Linked DNA regions of Homo sapiens: all the other regions are linked to region 2. Evidence: fine-mapped expression QTL. A gene starts in region 2. Each other region holds a variant in brackets. All regions are shown on one strand. Distances are from middle to middle.

Region 1 (2,762 bases), 110 kb after region 2:
TGAGGTTTAAAAGTCACAGATGGTTGGGTTGAACTTTCCTTGCATTTGTCTCTATTGGTAAAGACATTCTCATACATACTAGACTAGACTCCTATTGGCTTCCAATGAAGACTTTCTGGCTGACATCTCTTAATTCTACCATAGTTCTAGAAGCCACACGTTTTCAATTTCAGCATGTCCCAACTGTGGTATACATTGCTATAAGTATAATAAATAAAATCTTAGAGAATACATGAATAGTTTTAAAAATTTAAGTGACTATGTATTTATTTTAAAGATAGTTTTAAAAATATAACTAGCACCCAAAACCAGTGAGTTCAAAGATTTTATGTACTCCTTTTGAAATAAAGTAGATGATTTAAATCAGATTATTAGGTAAATAATAGTTCGGGTGATACATGAATATGGAAAAAATCATGCAGATGGTGGAGAAATAACTGAAACATGGGAAACTGTGAATTAATGGAGTCCATTTGAGTCTGTTGGGGTGATACTATTTCTTAACTTTATAAAATTTCAATCAGACTTGGATTAGATGGACCTGAAATGTCAACATAGATAATCCAAATTATTTTACATCTTGACGATCCTGAAGAGGATGCCAAATCAGCTGTTGATTCTAGCTTCCCTTTTGTCCTCTGCTGTACTTTAGGTTTCATTTCTACAGGGCACCTTGTTTTATGTAATAGTGTAGGCTCAGGAGTCAGACTGTCAGTGCTTGAACACTAACTCCACCACCTATTTTTTGTGTGAACTCAGAAAACTTATTTAACCTCTTCGAATCTTGTATTTCTTACATGTAAAATGGGGGAAAACAGTACTTAGCTTGTGAAGTTCTCCTTAAGATTAATACATCAAAACACATCAAGGAACTATCACCTCAGTAAGTACTGAATAAATATTAGCTATTATTATTTTATGTCTGAAAGGTTGTGTAAAGATAATGGTGTATGTCGTGGGTAAGTGGCAACTCTCTGGGCCAATGGTGTGGGTGGTGGAAGAATTTAACAAGACAGTTGCAGTTAAAGAAAGGCAGATTTATTAGAAAAAGTATGAAAATACATCCATGCATTAAAAAGGTGTTGTAGTAAAGAAAAATATGTTGCAAGAAAGCAACAGGCAAGTCAACATGAGAGGAGCTGACTGTAAGGAGACAAAGGCTTGCTGGGAATTTTATAGAATGGTGCCTGGGCCGTGTGCTGAAGAGGGCTTTGTGCACTACTGGTAACGCCAAGGTTGCAGTGAGCTAGCTTGCATTTTTGTATC[A/C]GCTGAGGATCTGGTGACAGCTAGACACAGGAAGATTGTGTCCTGGACCATGAAGAAAGGCAGACTTACAGCTTATCTGCTTTTTCTTTTTTGCTTTCCCCTGCTCCCACCAGCCTGACTCCTCTTCCCTATTTAGGACTCCACTGTTTATCCACAAAATTCCATTTATGATGCTACAAAAGAGTTTATTTAAAAGAAAAACTAGTGAGTCCCATTGTGAAGCAAATACTGGCATTATTTCACAGTAATGAATTACTATGATATGTACTGCTTTTTAAGGTCTGTGCTGTTGACTAGGCTAGGTTTAAGTTGAAGATGTTCTTAGAGACATTTAAGTCCCATAAGGTTTGAAAGGCATTTCTCTTCACGGTTTTCACCATGACTTGGCACAAAGAAAGTCCCTTTGAAACGTAATATAAATGAGCTCAACATTCTTGAAGCCAAATATTCCTAACTGTGTATGGAAGACTTTAGACTGGCCATAGGTCCAGAAAGAGAACTTTTTTGGAAATCTTTCAGAAGAACTCAAGGTTAAAGCTCTTGGAAACGAGTTTTTTGTTTTCATTCTCTTTAGCACTGCCTGAAAGAAGAACTTTCATTCTTAAAAAGGCTTGTAATTTATCGAGTCTTCTGCAATTAAGAATGTCATATATTCTCACTTGGAGAATATTTTGATTGCAGCTATTTAGGTAGGGCTGTATGTAGAATCACAGGATTCTTAAAGTTGGAAAGAACTTAAAATATTGTTGAGTTCTCATCTCTCTCCTGTTCCTTCTCTCTTAGAGCCCTAGAAATGTTTACCAATTTGTCCCAGTTTGCCCAGCGAGTTGGCATCAGTGCCCAGCTAGGAAACAAATGCAGATGACTCAGCAGGGTCCCTGACTGAATTCCTTTCATGGACAACAGTAAGCCTCTGGAGGAGGAGAACAGCATCCTGCTCACCTTTGTTGATCTTAGTTTCCCCTTTTTATCCTTGGCTGTACTTTAGGTTTCATTTTTATAGGACAAGTCATTTCATATGACAGTGTAGGCTCAGGAGTCAAGCTGCCTGTGCTTGAATCCTGGCTCTACCACCTATTTACTGTGCGAACTCAGAAAATATATTTAACCTCTTTGAGTCTCATATTTCTGGTTTTTGTTTTGTTTTGTTTTCTTTTTTGATACGGAGTCTCACTCTGTTGCTCACTGCAACTTCTGTCTCCTGGGTTCAAGCAATTCTTCTGCCTCAGCCTCCCAAATAGATGGGATTGGAGGCGCATGCCACCATGCCTGGCTAATTTTTGTATTTTTAGTAGAGATGGGGTTTCACCATGTTGGCCAGCCTGGTCTCGAACTCCTGACGTCAAGTCTCGAACTCCTGACCTCAAGTGATCAGCCTGCCTTGGCCTCCCAAAGTGCCAGGATTACAGGTGTGAGCCACCATGCCCAGCCAGAGTCTTATATTTCTTACGTGTGAAATGGAGGTGGGGGGAATAGTACCTAGCTTGTGAAGTTCT
Region 2 (2,762 bases):
TAGCTGGATCTGACTCCGCCACTCATTACGTGTAAAAAGACACTGGGGAATGGAACGGTTGTCAAAATGCCCAGTTAACGACAACAAATATAAACTTTTCTTCGTATACCCTTCGCAGTAAAGTAGCAACAGCAATCGCAACCAAAATTTACTAAGCTCGCCTGCAGGATTCTCAGCCCTGTGTACAAACTCAAGTAGCTCAATATTTCTTGCTGGCTCTGGCACAGGAGCAGATCCAGACTAGATGGGTTCTAAAGTCATCCCAACAGGAAAACTAAGCTATGAACATTAAATCTTATCTCTGAAAGAGAGAATGAGGGTAGCACAGGAGTTAGAACCAACTTCTGTGCAAGCGAGCACTCCCCGACGCACCGGAAGTTTTGAAATATCCTGTGGGCTTCCCACAGGCAAAGTGGTTTTCCCTCCCCGCGGCTCTGCGGGCCCTCCCCAGGGTTCGAGGACCTCCGAGTTTGCTGCGCCCGGGGCCGGGGCCCTGGCCCTGCCACAGGCTGGGAGCGAGGCCGTCAATCACAGCCCGCGAATCACAGCCCGCGCCCCACGACTTCACCTTGGCGGCTCCCAAGCTGCGACTCGGGCAGGTGGGAGGTACCTGCGGCCCGGCTCCTGCCCCTGCCTGCTGCGACCGGGGGAGAGGCTGTCCCAGCTGGGGCCGGTGCAGGCCCCGGGGCCCCGTCTCGGGCCACGCGAGCCCTCGAGATGGTACCGCGTGGGGGCCGCGCGGCGGGGCCCTGCCCCGGGGCCCGGCAAACTCGGCTGCCCGCCCGGCCCGCCCCCCGGCGCCGCCACTCACCGAAGAATCCCTGCACGATTCCCAGCGGGTGGCTGAGCCAATCCTCCCCACACGGCATCTCGCCAGGGGCCGGGGCCGGCGAAGACCGGGCGGAGGCGATCCGCGGGCCGAGCGCGGCCGGGCGGCCGGCGCCCAGCTCCTCTTCAGCGGCTCGGCCGCTCCTCGCCCGCGTTCGCTCGCGCCCTCCCACGCACAGCGAGCCGCGGGGCGCGGGCCTCCCGCGCCTCAGGGAGCGGCGGCTGCGGTGGGGCCGCCGAGGAGCTGCTGGCGACAGTCAGGCGGGCGCGTACGGGCCCCTAGCCTTCACTTCGCACAATGGCGGGAAATAGCCGCCGCCGACCGCGCTGCCTGCGACCTGGGTGGAGCTCGCGTGGGGAGGGGCGGCGGGAGCGCGCGGCGCAGCGCGGCTCTGCGCGGCGAGGAGGAGGGGCGGCGGCGGCGCCGCCATCTTGGAGACGGGCAAAAGGAAGGGCACGCAGCGCCGCTGGAGGCTGCGCAGCGCGGGGCCCGGCGACGCGCTCCAAGGGCGGCGCGTTGTCGTTTGTACCCCTGGGCCGGCGTGTAGCGGGAACTCCCATAGTGGGCTTATAAGAGGGCAAAGCGAGTCTGCACAACAGCTGAAAAGCATTAAGCTCAGAGACCTCAGAGTCATCTCTGGGCAAAATTAGTGGGCGAAACCGCCTTGGGAATCCGCCCACCTCCTCTTCGTGCCTTTTTTTTCTTTTTTTGCTGATGGCAGCACTTTTATTTGGGTCCCCGGCCCGAAACCCTGAGTGGTGACTTTTCCCTCAGCTGCACAAGGTCTCCCTGAGGAAGGTGCACATTTAGAGAAGGGGAACCTCGGAGGACCCCACGCTCCTTCTGCAGTCGCGTCAGGCCCTGTGGCTCAGGGACGGTTCCTTACCGAGGGGCGGGCGCTCTAAACGCTCCGGGCCCGGCCTGCGCCCTGGTTGCGAACACCGGGTCGGCGTCTGTCTGGAAGCTGGCAGCCGCCGTCGGGGAGCGGTGCGAGGCTCCTGCACTGCGCGCCGCTAGGATACCCTGGAGAAGGAAGCTACGAAGACCGACTACAGCAGCCTTTTGCTGAGGCAATTTGGAAAATACCCAAGTTCAAGAGTGAAACTGTGGGAGTCGCTCTGAACCTCTTCTGGTTCAGGAGGCTGTCCGATAAAAAAGAAAAAAAGAATGAAACTGTGTCTCCCCTGGGCCTGAAATGTACCTAAGAAAACCCCAGGCCCATCAGATATATCTACTCAATGAAAAAAGGGCATGGTGACGGAAGGGGAATGACCTGAATGGAATCTACAAAGTGAGGAGCTGAAGGAAAAAAACGGAACCCGTGTCTCAAACCCTCCTTGGGGCTGTAGGAAGGGGGGAAAATCTTTCTACCTTTCTAGGTTCTCCACTGCGGCCCTTATCACAAAGCTCGGATTGGCAAAAGAAAAATTTAGTAACATGTACATCTTATATGGGCAAAACTCAAGGAAGAGTAACTCAAACAGGTGGCTTAGAATGGGGGAATTACGTAGCATTTACAATAAAGAACAATAACTGGGGAGAAATGGCGAAAGCAGTTTGAAGTTTCCAAAAACAGCAGAGTGGGAAGGCAGAGATACGAGAAACTAATGGTAGTTACAGGTAGTGAGTAAAGTGTGTTATGTAGGTTCTTCTAGCGCCATCGCTGGCTGATAAGGGTCTAAAGTTGTCTCTGGTGACTAACTTTTGTCCCTGGTAGAAAGAGGAGGTGGGACACCTTTGAAAATGTATGTCCTGCTCTTAGGTACATAGTGGAAGGGTAGGGAGCTTGTTTTGTACAGATGCTCCTCTACTTACTCTACTTAGGATGGAGTTACATCCCAATAAACCCATTGTAAATTGAAAATATCATTAGTTGAGGCCCAGCGTGGAGCCTCACTCCTGTAATCCCAATACTCTGGGAGGCCAAGGCGGG
Region 3 (2,762 bases), 42 kb before region 2:
TACGTTAGAGCAACAAACTTGACTGTCCGTGTATATATAGGTGAGGGACAAAGGGTTTCTGCAGCCAAGCACTGCACTCCATTCCGCTGCCTGGGCGGGCCTTGAGCAGGAAGGTCCCTCTTGCACCACCTCCTCCACTTCAGTTCAGCTCTCTCATGTCTTCCACCAAGAGGACATGGTCTTTTTCCACACAGATCACATGGGATGGTGAATCTTCTTACTCATGAAAAACAGCCCAAGGTACTGCTAATTTGGGACGTTTTATTTATTGGAAAGGTTCTTTCAAGGGAACTTTTCTGCAAGACCAAGCAATGTATGTATTTTTCTTTGGTAAATTACAATTTACATTGGCACAAAAAACACATGGTGACTAATGTACTTTGCTCTAGGACAATTAAAGAAAATGTATTTTATCCTCACAAATCCAGTGAAGCCTTCATTTTATTTCTAAAAGTTTAAGGAAGGTCTAGTCTACCAGTTATAAAAATGAAAACCAGTTCAACTCTAATATAAACATTATTTACATTTGTTTATAAAAATAGATTTGAGTTTAGGAAAAGTTGAACAACTAGTTATTTTTACTTCAGTTATTAGGTACAATGAATTCCTTGATTTTTCAAGGCTGACCCTGTTTCCTTGGTTAACAATTTCAATTTAGGCCTTATAGGAAAAAACGTAAGGGATCCTTTATCTGCCTCCAACTAGGTAAGTTATTTGATACCACTGACAGCTTAAAAAGTAATGTCCTAACCTTTCTGAAGATTCTGGTTGCCATAACCATGCTACTACAGTCTGTTGTTAGTTTGCTCTATTAAAACTAATTGGTCTGGAGAAAACCTACCTGCAGTTGTACGAGGCTGTTACTGGAGTAGCAGATGTTAGCTGATCTAACATACTTGGAACCAACTGATGATCCCATAAAAAATGCCAAAAATCCAATAGAATCAAAGCAACTCAATGACATTTAAGAAAATAAAAACTTTCTAAAGGGGGTATTGCTTTTTAAGTTTCCTATTTTGTTTTCATATTTGGGCACAGCTTTGTAGCACAGCATTCCCTTATGCATGGTTCTCAAATGCACTGGGATAGGAGAAAATAAAGACAATGTAGTGTCTTGGTTTCTTTTGCCCCCAAAAGCCACATTCATTCCGTTTAAAGGACTCCTCTTATTCAGAGATAGATTGTCCTTTCCTTTTATGAAAAAAATGGTGATAATACAGTGATTTATTCGGATTACTTGGCAAGGTAAATTGGCAACCTTATAGTACCCCAGATTTTTGGAAATATTACTACCGGTCCATAAAATACAAAAGTCTGGGAACCACTGCCATGTACAAGTTTAGTTTTGCAGG[C/CTGTT]TGTTAACAAATGTTAAGTGGGAAAAAGTTTCTGTGGCCAAACATCTGGGAAATGACAGTACAGAATTTCATGTAGTCATGTGAATCAATGGCAAGTACGCCTCCGTTCCCCAAAGATGGACTACTGAATGCACCCCAACCCACTGTGAACTGGAAAAACAGAGAACTAGAAAACATAAGAAATCCGAAGCACGATTCCTCTGACTTTGAAACTGCAACAACCTTCTTCATTTCAGCATTTCAACAGTCTGGCCTATGACTCAGCTGAAGCTAAGGAAATGGTACAATCAGCAACATTATCAATATTAAACTTTTAATATCAAATACTTTTTTTACATCATTACTAATTTATATAATTATTATAAAACAAACTTCAAAAGCTCCATGAAATCAGTAAGGTAAAAGTCCTTACTGAATATCATATAAACATCAGGTGTTACCAGGCTTGATTTCAGGAAATGTCACTGGTTTGTGATAGAAATTACCTATAAAACAATGTGGTATAAATGAATATCTGAATTTTACAATTATGTGGCTACAGTTTGCCCATTACTCTTCATAGGTATTACATCTTTAAAGTTCATTTCCATTCACACATTTTTGCTGCTGAAGCCTCGTTCTTCTTAAAGACTCTAGCTGCTTTGCTCTCAGCCATCGTTCTCTTGACAGCGTTGTCTGACCAGCACTGAGAGACAGACACCTGGTTTGAAACACAGAAACAAATTTAAGTCTAGAGCTGGGATAGTAAGTTTTAAATTTTTTTTAAGACCTAGGAATACTTTGTGAAAACACAGAGCACGTTAGGAGACAAGACCGTATGGTAGTTACACACAAGTCAACAGCCAAGTTAGGCTTCTAAAAAGAAATCGTTGAAGAGTCAGAATTGGAAAGTGGCTCACTCTTTGAAGCTTAGAGAACAAGCAGCATGCCTGTTCCACTGAAGAGATCACCAGCCAAACTCGATTCCCCCTCAATGAGCCCTTTCATACAGCGTTTTTAAAAGGAAAAGTTCATTTCCGTTTTTAGAATTCTGCCTCAGTTACTGCTGAATAACTCAGAAGACATATACACAAGCTTACCGAAACAGCAATAATGGACGTGCGCCACTTACCGAGCCACCACGAGCAGCTGGTGAAGATCATCAGCAGTGATGCTCTGAGGGTCGTTCTTCCGCATTTCCACAAAGTCATCTTCAACTGCCTTTATCAAAAGAGTAAATGTAAATGATGTGCATTTTTGTAAGGAAAAGAAAATTAACATGGTTCCTTGACTGATGTAGTAAGGTGCATGTCAGCCTCTTAGACAAAGGAGGCAATATGGGTGAAAGTACCAAAGCATATACATACATAATGCTGCTGATGAAAATAAAATAATGAAACTCAGATTCATTTAAGGTCAAGCAAACATATA

Which allele goes with the higher level. Positions count from the first base shown, and alleles are read on the strand shown. Sizes are in standard deviations (SD) of each study's normalised expression. Not every link is listed here.
For the expression in tibial nerve of the gene that starts at base 1,128 in region 2, allele CTGTT in region 3 goes with a lower level than allele C (small effect, 0.36 SD a copy in GTEx).

Evidence for each region. PIP is the estimated chance that this variant, and not a neighbour inherited with it, causes the effect.
Region 1: its variant is the best candidate, but not a certain one, in a credible set for the expression of MCMBP in whole blood (TOPMed, PIP 0.53).
Region 3: its variant is the best candidate, but not a certain one, in a credible set for the expression of MCMBP in tibial nerve (GTEx, PIP 0.65).

The regions. Positions count from the first base shown.
Region 1 is chr10:119,979,901-119,982,662 of GRCh38, forward strand. No RefSeq gene overlaps it. Among named protein-coding and RNA genes, the nearest start is that of MIR4682, 23 kb to the left of the region's middle. The variant A/C (reference allele first, on the strand shown) is at 1,267.
Region 2 is chr10:119,871,716-119,874,477 of GRCh38, forward strand. It overlaps MCMBP (minichromosome maintenance complex binding protein), which reads right to left and starts at 1,128. Exons shown (of 16, transcript NM_001256378.2): 1 at 812-1,128. The coding sequence starts at 869. RefSeq lists a silencer at 583-1,232 and enhancers at 1,463-1,622, 1,488-1,657.
Region 3 is chr10:119,829,549-119,832,310 of GRCh38, forward strand. It overlaps MCMBP (minichromosome maintenance complex binding protein), which reads right to left. Exons shown (of 16, transcript NM_001256378.2): 15 at 2,464-2,552; 16 at 1-2,052. The coding sequence ends at 1,926. Among named protein-coding and RNA genes, the nearest start is that of MCMBP, 42 kb to the right of the region's middle. The variant C/CTGTT (reference allele first, on the strand shown) is at 1,353.